2 separate regions of the Homo sapiens genome follow, and region 2 is linked to region 1. The links come from fine-mapping of genetic effects on gene expression. A gene starts in region 1. The other region holds a variant in brackets. All regions are shown on one strand. Distances are between the middles of the regions. Region 1 holds the start of BBC3 (BCL2 binding component 3). Region 2 overlaps SAE1 (SUMO1 activating enzyme subunit 1).

Region 1 (4,210 bases):
CCGCCCACCCCACCTCCCACTTGCACACAAACACTGAGATGGCCCCAGTCTCGGACATCACTACTCAGTACACACAATACACACACACCCCCGACCAAAGCAGGAGCATCCAGACAGACCATCACAAGCACTCTACATACTGCGCACACTGGCTGGCACAATCCATCCCCACACATCCAAACTGTCAAAGTCTCACACACTGACCCACTGTTGATATGCCCAGGGGCACATGCAAACACAATGCAGCCTTTGCAAACACAAACACACACACACAAGCTAGGCACTGCCTCAGTTCCCAAACATGCCCCTCTCCACACACACACACTCACTCCAGAGATAAGACCTGCACACCTCTGGACTCACATATCAACACAAAACAGACACCCACGGACACACATACATCAACACCCCCAAAACACACCCACATGTCACCAACTCTCAGGACACACGTAGATCAGGCACACACAGACACATGCCATCAGACCTCAACACACCACCAGACACCAACCCACCCTCCTCACGCAACCCTCAAACATCATCACCAACTGTCAGCAACACACACACACACACACCCTACAGCTAACTCTAATCCCACACAGCCCAGCAGCACACACACCTAGCGCACCCACAGAAAACACTGGTCTCACGTGACTGACATAAACACTACACACACGCAGCCCACATGACACACATGAGCCAGCCGATCACAGTGACAAGCCCCTCAGACCCAACACACACACACACACACAGGCTCAGACACAACCCCATCCAGAGGCTGCCAGCAACACCCACCGTCTACACTGCATAGACCCCACAGATCCTGGGTCCTCAAATCCCAGACGCTGATGCCAGACACACAAGCCAAACCCAGACTGAAACAACCCCCCACCACACACATACATACACACACACACTCACACCTGACAACTCACACAGACACCTGGACAGAAAACAGACATTTGCATTTAGCAGGCGCAGCATCACAAACGCTGGGCAAAAGACACATGCCCCGGAGATACAGAGACGGCCTCAGCCAAGACAGAAACACACAGGCAAGACACAAGCACACATATCGCACGCTCGGGCAAGACACACACATAAACACACAAACAGCTCACTCCAGCAACACACACACACTACAACCTCCACACCCCAGCACACGCAGGCACCACAGACCCCCAGTATCATCCCGGAACAGCACACACAGACAACTCTCACCGACAACACACGCAGGTCCACCCACCCCACAAGCAGGGCACCCACAGACAGAACCCCACACAAACAGGCGCGGGGACTCACGCAGACACCCCGACGGGTCAGAAACCCCAACATTCCTCTGGATCGACACCACCACTCCCTGCAGAACCCAGCACAAACTCGGAGCCAGACACGCGCACACACCCAGGCGAGACACCTGCAGATCCACAACCCCGCACACGCGCGCTCCCACGGCGGTCCCAGACACCCCCCTCCGCTGTCACAGCCCCCCCCACCGCCGCCACGTGCGCCCGCCCCGCCCGCCAGGCGAGCGCGGGGCCAATAACCGGCTGTTGCTGGGGCGCAGCCCCCGCCCGCAGGAGCCGCAGACTCCACGGCCCGCGAGCCGCCCCCCGTCGCCGCCCCCAGCGGGCGCGCGCCCTGGGTGTGGCCGCCCCTCCGTGCCGCCCCCCCGCCCCTCCCGGACTTTGGGGGCTGGGGCACCCCTGGGGTCGACCCTCTTCCCCGGGGCCGCACTGGCCGCCAGGGGGCGCTGCCGAGCCCGCACCCCATTGTTTGTAAACAAACCCGCCAGACCGCCGAGGCACCTGTGCGCCCAGACCGGCGCCCCAACGCCGAGCCGCCTCTCACCCGGCGACCCTGGCCCAGGGTCCCTCGCGGGGTTTGGAGAGGCGCGGTGTGGGGAGGCAGGGCGCCCACACTGCTCTCCGCCTGCACTCCTGTCACCTCCTCCAGGGAGTCCACCCGGCCTGGCCGATCGCCGCCGGAGAGGATTCGGGGCGCGCACACTCACCCCGGGGGCATGAACACGCCGGAGGGGGCGGCGGTGGGGGGCGGGCGGCTTCCTTCAGGAGGGCGCGCCCGCCGAGCGCCGCTCTCCGCGGCGGCTGCTGCTGTGGCTGTCGCTGCTGCTGCCGCTCTAACTGCAGTGGCGGCTGCTGTGGCTGTGGCTGCTGCTGCTCCCCGGGCCGCAGGCGCGTCCGCGTCGTGGCCGCTGCTGGGATCGCTGGTGCCGCCGCCGCCGCCGCCAGGCGCCCGCTCGCATGTGGCTCGCGCCGCGTCTCAGGCCGCCCGGCGGATCCCGGGCCCGCTCCAAAGCCGCCCCGCCCCGCCCCGCCCCGCCCCCGCCCGGCGGGTCCCACGCCCCGCCCCCGCGTGACGCTACGGCCCCGCCCGCCCGCCGCGGACAAGTCAGGACTTGCAGGCGCGCGCCGCGCCCCCCCCTACCTCCGCGCCGGGGGTTTCCCTGCAGCGGGGGACGGGGCAGGGCCTAGCCCAAGGCAAGGAGGACCCAGGCGCTGTGCGGCGGGGTGTGGGGAGATCGCCCAGACACCGGGACAGTCGGACACACACACTGACTGGGACCCACAGATCCACACCCCCAGCGATGCGTACACAGACCGACCGACGGGCGTTCCAGGGTCCACAAAGTCACGTGCAGGCAGAGCCCAGAGGATGTACTCACAGACACAAGGCCACAGTCTCGCAAATCCACACCATGGACAGGGGCATGAGCACACACACTCACATACTGATGGGGCTCACACTTACACACACCCAGACGGAAATGCACAGACTCACTAACAGGGTCCCCTGGACAAGCAGACGGACACAATGACAGGGCCACACACAGTTGCAGAAACACCCACACTGATGATCACACCTGGGCCCACAAACTGTGTTCACAAACAACCCTACCGAACAGGCACCCACACCACACACACGGTGGTGCAACCACACAGACATAGGCGGAGTGCTTATCAGGAAACACAAACTTGCTGATAGGCACAGGGGACACACACATACACACAGACACCTGTTACAGGGATACCTGGATACACGGCCAAATCCAAATCACACTCCCACAGGGACATACACAAATGCACTCACACAATTTCACAGCTAACACATTAAAACTATCAGAAAGTGACATTCGCCCGACACGGTGGCTCATGCCTGTAATCCCAGCACTTTGGGAGGCCAAGGTGCGTGGACTGCCTGAGGTCAGGAATTCGAGACCAGCCTGACCAACATGATGAAACCCCATCTCTACTAAAAATACAAAATTAGCCGGGCGTTGTGGCGCATGCCTGTAATCCCAGCTACTTGGGAGGCTGAGGCAGGAGAACTGCTTGAACCCGGGAGGCGGAGGTTGCAGTGAGCCGAGATAGTGCCATTGCACTCTAGCCTGGGCAACAAGAGCAAACTCCGTCTTAAAAATAAAAATAAAGGAAAGAAACTGACATTCAGAGACACAAACCAAATCAGACATAGAAGAAACTGACCACCCACACATGTCACAAAGTCACACCTGTGACAGCTTCTTGCTAACTGGCCCACTGCACACACGTCGGAGCATGCACACCTGGCCACACTCACCACAAATCTGGCAGGGGACCCACGTCGTGGAAGCAGCCCTGGGCACCTGGCATGGACATGCCTGGGCAGACCCCATGCCAAATTTCATCCTGTCTCATAGCTTTCCATTCCGTTTCTTTTTCAGTTTCTCATTGTTACTTCCTGCCCTGCTCTGGTTTGGTGAGTTTTGTCCTTCCTTTTTCCAAAGCCGTGGATTCCTGTCTCCTCTACACTTTCCATCCTTACTGGGTCTCACCCAATCGCAATCGCCTCACCAGAGTGACTCACCTTCCAGTGCCTAGTGTGGGGCTGGCTGAGTAAGGATGTCAGACTTCTCAAACTTGACTGCCTCCAAGTACACACTCTTAGCTCCCCCAAGAGATGCAGGTAATCTATATCTCACGTGAAATCTCCCCATTTGCAACATTGGGAACTCCTCAGCTTTCCTCCCTCTTTCACTTTCCCTCCTCTTTCGCTTTCCCCGATTATTCATTGTCCCTTCCTTCTTCCTGGTGTTTTCCAAACTGTGGGTCATGAGTAAACCATGGATTATGACATATGACATCACTTACATGGATCTTACTTTTTTTTTTTTTTTTGAGACAGAGTCTCGCGCTGTCGCCCAGGCTGGAGT
Region 2 (4,210 bases), 38 kb before region 1:
AAAAACAAAAACAAGTAAATAAATGAATAAAAATAAAGGAATCCAGCCATCTGTTAGTATAGCCAAAGCAGAGGATATTGCATCAAATGTTAAACGCTAGTCCTGTCAGTCACTCCTGAGAGAACAGGGCAACAAGACCCAGAAAGGGTATCAACACTGCCTGAGCAGATGGAGGCAAAGCTGTGCATGGGCTGCTTATAGGGCACAGTCTGAGGCCTTGCAGCAGTCACGTGGAAACTGAGGCTGCCTGCTTTCCAGGTGCAAGGTGATGGACAGTGGCAGGAACCCTGTGCTAGATGACTCTTGTGCGATCTTATTTCTTTGTTACTGGGACACAAGCACCAACTGTCACAAGGGACCAACAAGAGGAGGTGATTTTTTTTTTCAGCTGTTACCACAAAGCTTTTCATCTTTTGGTTTGAAAACATAGCTGTGGGAATAGGCCGGGCGCGGTGGCTCACACCTGTAATCCCAGCACTTTGGGAGGCCAAGGCGGGCCGATCACAAGGTCAGGAGATCGAGACCATCCTGGCTAACACGGTGAAACCCCGTCTATACTAAAAATACAAAAATTAGCCGGGCGTGGTGATGGCCGCCTGTAGTCCCAGCTACTCGGGAGGCTGAGGCAGGAGAATGGCGTGAACCCGGGAGGCGGAGCTTGCAGTGAGCCGAGATCGCGCCACCGCACTCCAGCCTGGGCAACAGAGCGAGACTCTGTCTCAAAAAAAAAAAAAGAAAAAAGAGAGAGAAAGAAAATATAGCTTTGGGAGCACCAAAGCCCAAAGCGTTATAGTGCCTACTATGTGTCAGGCACTATACTAAACATTTCACATGGCTTAGCACTCATGTGATCTTCACGATAACCTGGTGAGCGGGTAATTATTATCACCCTTCCTACTGGTTTGTTGTTGTTGTTGTTGTCGTCGTTGTTGTTTTGAGACAGAGTCTCGCTCTGTCACCCAGGCTAGATTGCAGTGGCACGATACCGGCTCACTGCAACCTCTGCCTCCTGGGTTTGAGCGACTCCTGCCTCAGGCTCCCGAGTAGCTGGGATTAAAAGCGTCCGCCACCATGCCCAGCTAATTTTTGTATTTTTAATAGAGATGGGGTTTTATCATCTTGGCCAGGCTGGTCTTGAACCCCTGACCTCGTGATCCACCCGCCTTGGCCTCCCAAAGTGCTGGGATTACAGGCATCAGCCACCATGCCCGGCTACTTAATTTATTTTTTGAGACAGCCTCTCTCTGTAGCCCAGACTGGAGTGCAGCGGTGTGATTTCGGCTCACCGCAACCTCTGAATCCTGGGTTCAAGCAATTCTACTGCCTCAGCCTCCCAAGTACTTGATTATAGGCACCCACCACACTTTCGGCTAATTTTCCTATTTTTAGTAGAGATGGGGTTTCACCATGTTGGCCAGGCTGGTCTCAAACTCCTGACCTCAAGTGATCTGCCCACCTTAGCCTCCCAAAGTGCTGGGGTTACAGGTGTGAGCCACTGCACCTGGCCTCCTTTATTTTATGGGACATTTTTTGAAAAGAGGCTTGGTCCAAACAGGCAGTACTTGCCACTTCTGCAGTCATTTCTCTACCCTGCCCCAAAATGGTTACTCAGTTGCATTTATTTACTACAATCGGAATACCAGCAGGACATCTACAAAAGTAGAAGTATTGGGTGGTAGCAGATCAGTGCTCTCTGGCATCCAGATCGTCTAGATGGTCACAGCCTTTTTTTTTTTTTTTTTGGAGACAGAGTCTTGCTCTGTCGCCCAGGCTGGAGTGCAGTGGCACAATCTCGGCTCACTGCAACCTCCACCTCCCGGGTTCAAGAGATTCTCCTGCCTCAGCCTCCCGAGTAGCTGAGATTACAGGCACCCACCACCATGCACGGCTAATTTTTTTGGTATTTTTAGTAGAGATGGGGTTTCGCTGTGTTGGCCAGGCTGGTCTTGAACTCCTGACCTCAGGTGATCCACCTGCCTCAGCCTCTGAAAGTGCTGGGATTACAGGCATGAGCCACCACACCTGGCCAATTGTTA[C/T]AGCTTTGAGTTGACTGCCAAGTGTTGAGGTAGCATTGAGGGTTGCAGAAGCTGTGTTCTTGAAAAAGAGAAGAGAGTAACATTCTCAGAAAGCAAACAGTATTCAGAAGAGTCAATGGGTGTTCTGGAGCTTTTTTCTTTTCTTTCCTTTTTTTTTTTAAAGAAATTACCAGCTGGGTGCTGTGGCTCACGCCTGTAATTCCAGCACTTTGGGGGGCCAAGGTGGGAGGATCACCTGAGGTCAGGAACTTGAGACCAGGAATTTTTCTATTTTTAGTGAAACCCCATCTCTACTAAAAATACAAAAAATTAGCTGGGTGTGGCTGCAGGCACCTGTAATCCCCAGTTACTTGGCAGGTTGAGGCAGGAGAATGGCTTGAACCCGGGAGGTGGAGGTTGCATTGAGCCGAGATCACGCCATTGCACTCCAGCCTGGGCAACAGAGCAAGATTGTCTCAAAAAAAAAAAAAAAGAAAGAAAAGAAAAAGAAAAAGAAATTACCTCTTCTCTGATATGCAGAGCCCCGTCTATACTGGACAGGTGGAAGTTACCAGAGAAATACAGGCCAGGGGCCTTTGTCTGACATTGGCACTGAGAAAAGCATAGCCCAGAAGCAGGGTGTGTCTTTTTTTTTTACCTGGGCATCTGTGGTTTGAGATCTTCTTGGAACACTTTATAACCCATTTCTGAACGTCTCCCAGGCTTCAGTGGAGCCACCTGTTGTAGCTTCTAAAACTGTGTCCTCCTCAGTTGTTCTCCCACCCATTGCCTTCACAGATGCAGAGACCAAGATTCACTCACTCGCCATTGGACCTTTAGCACCCAGGTCTGTCTGGCACAAAGTAAGTGCCAGGCTGGTGGAGTGAATGAATTCTACTTAGAGAATGGCCCTCAACACAGGCTGCTCATTACCAAAACTATTTGGTCTTTAAAAAGTGTGACTCTGATGCTTCAGTCTGGGGTGGGTACCAAATACTTGTATTTTTTAAAGAGCCTCACAGCAACTTGAATTTACCTTAATTTTTATGTAGGAACCCTTGTCCTGGTAGAGAGTATAATTTGCTGAATAAGTCTACTTTTTCAATCAACATATACGGAAGAGATATCAATGAAAGAACTGACAAACTGTAAAGCCCCCTCTCCAGGTGTAAAGCACTCAGGGCTTGGGCCTAGAAGCTGATCCATGTCTCTGTGTCTGTTCTGAAATAGCCTGTGTGATGTGGGAGAAAGAGTATTGTCCTTAGAGACAAGGCTCGAGACTGGCTGTGCCCTTTCCTTGGGCAGTATGTAGGGAACAAGAATGCCTGCCCGCCCGCAGGCAGGTTACCTGTGGACAAGGTGTAGTGGGCAGTTAGAAGGTGTTGGTATGTTAATCAGTCTTTTTTTTTTTTTTTTTTTTGAGATGGAGTTACGCTCTATCGCACAGGCAAAGTGCAGTGGCGCGATCTCAGCTCACTGCAACCTCCCAGGTTCAAGTGATTCTTCTGCTTCAGCCTCCCAAGTACCTGGGACTACAGGCGTGCGCCACCACGCCTGGCTAATTTATGTATTTTTTTAGTAGAGACGGGGTTTCACCATGTTGGCCAGGCTGGTCTCTAACTTCTGACCTCGTGATCTGCCTGCCTCGGCCTCCCAAAGTGCTGGGATTACAGACGTTACAGACGTGAGCCACCACACCTGGCCAGTCTTTTTTTTTTTTTTTCTGAGATGAAGTCTCACTCTGTTGCCCAGGCTGGAGTTCAGTGGCACGATCTCGGCTCACTGCAACCTCTGCCTCCCGGGTTCAAGCGATTCTCCTGCCTCAGCCTCCTGACTAAGTGGGACTACAGGTGCCTGCCACCACGCCTGGCTAATTTTTGTATTTTTAGTAGAGACCGGGTTTCACCATGTTGGCCAGGTTGGTCTCGAACTCCTGACCTCAGATGATCCACCCGCCTTGGCCTCCCAAAATGCTTGGATTACAGGCGTGAGCCACTGCACCCAGCCTAATTAGTCTTTTGCTCCTATTTGTCTTTATTTGGGATAAAAGTTATAGCCTTGTTGGGGTCTTCTTACACAGTAGTTCTGACTCACAGCCATCATCTGAACCTTTCCTCTGGTTCACAACCAAAATTAAACATCCATTTATGGGGATTGAGATAGTTTTCATAGTAAAGGAAGTTTTGTTTGTAATG

The links. PIP is the estimated chance that this variant, and not a neighbour inherited with it, causes the effect.
Region 2: its variant is the best candidate, but not a certain one, in a credible set for the expression of BBC3 in sun-exposed skin (GTEx, PIP 0.69).

Annotation. Positions count from the first base shown.
Region 1 is chr19:47,228,918-47,233,127 of GRCh38, forward strand. It overlaps BBC3 (BCL2 binding component 3), which reads right to left and starts at 2,282. Exons shown (of 4, transcript NM_014417.5): 1 at 2,012-2,282. RefSeq lists silencers at 1,440-2,159, 2,300-2,529 and enhancers at 2,670-2,789, 3,499-4,122, 3,549-3,818.
Region 2 is chr19:47,191,333-47,195,542 of GRCh38, forward strand. The region is part of intron 6 of SAE1 (SUMO1 activating enzyme subunit 1); the gene reads left to right. Among named protein-coding and RNA genes, the nearest start is that of MIR3190, 34 kb to the right of the region's middle. The variant C/T (reference allele first, on the strand shown) is at 2,037.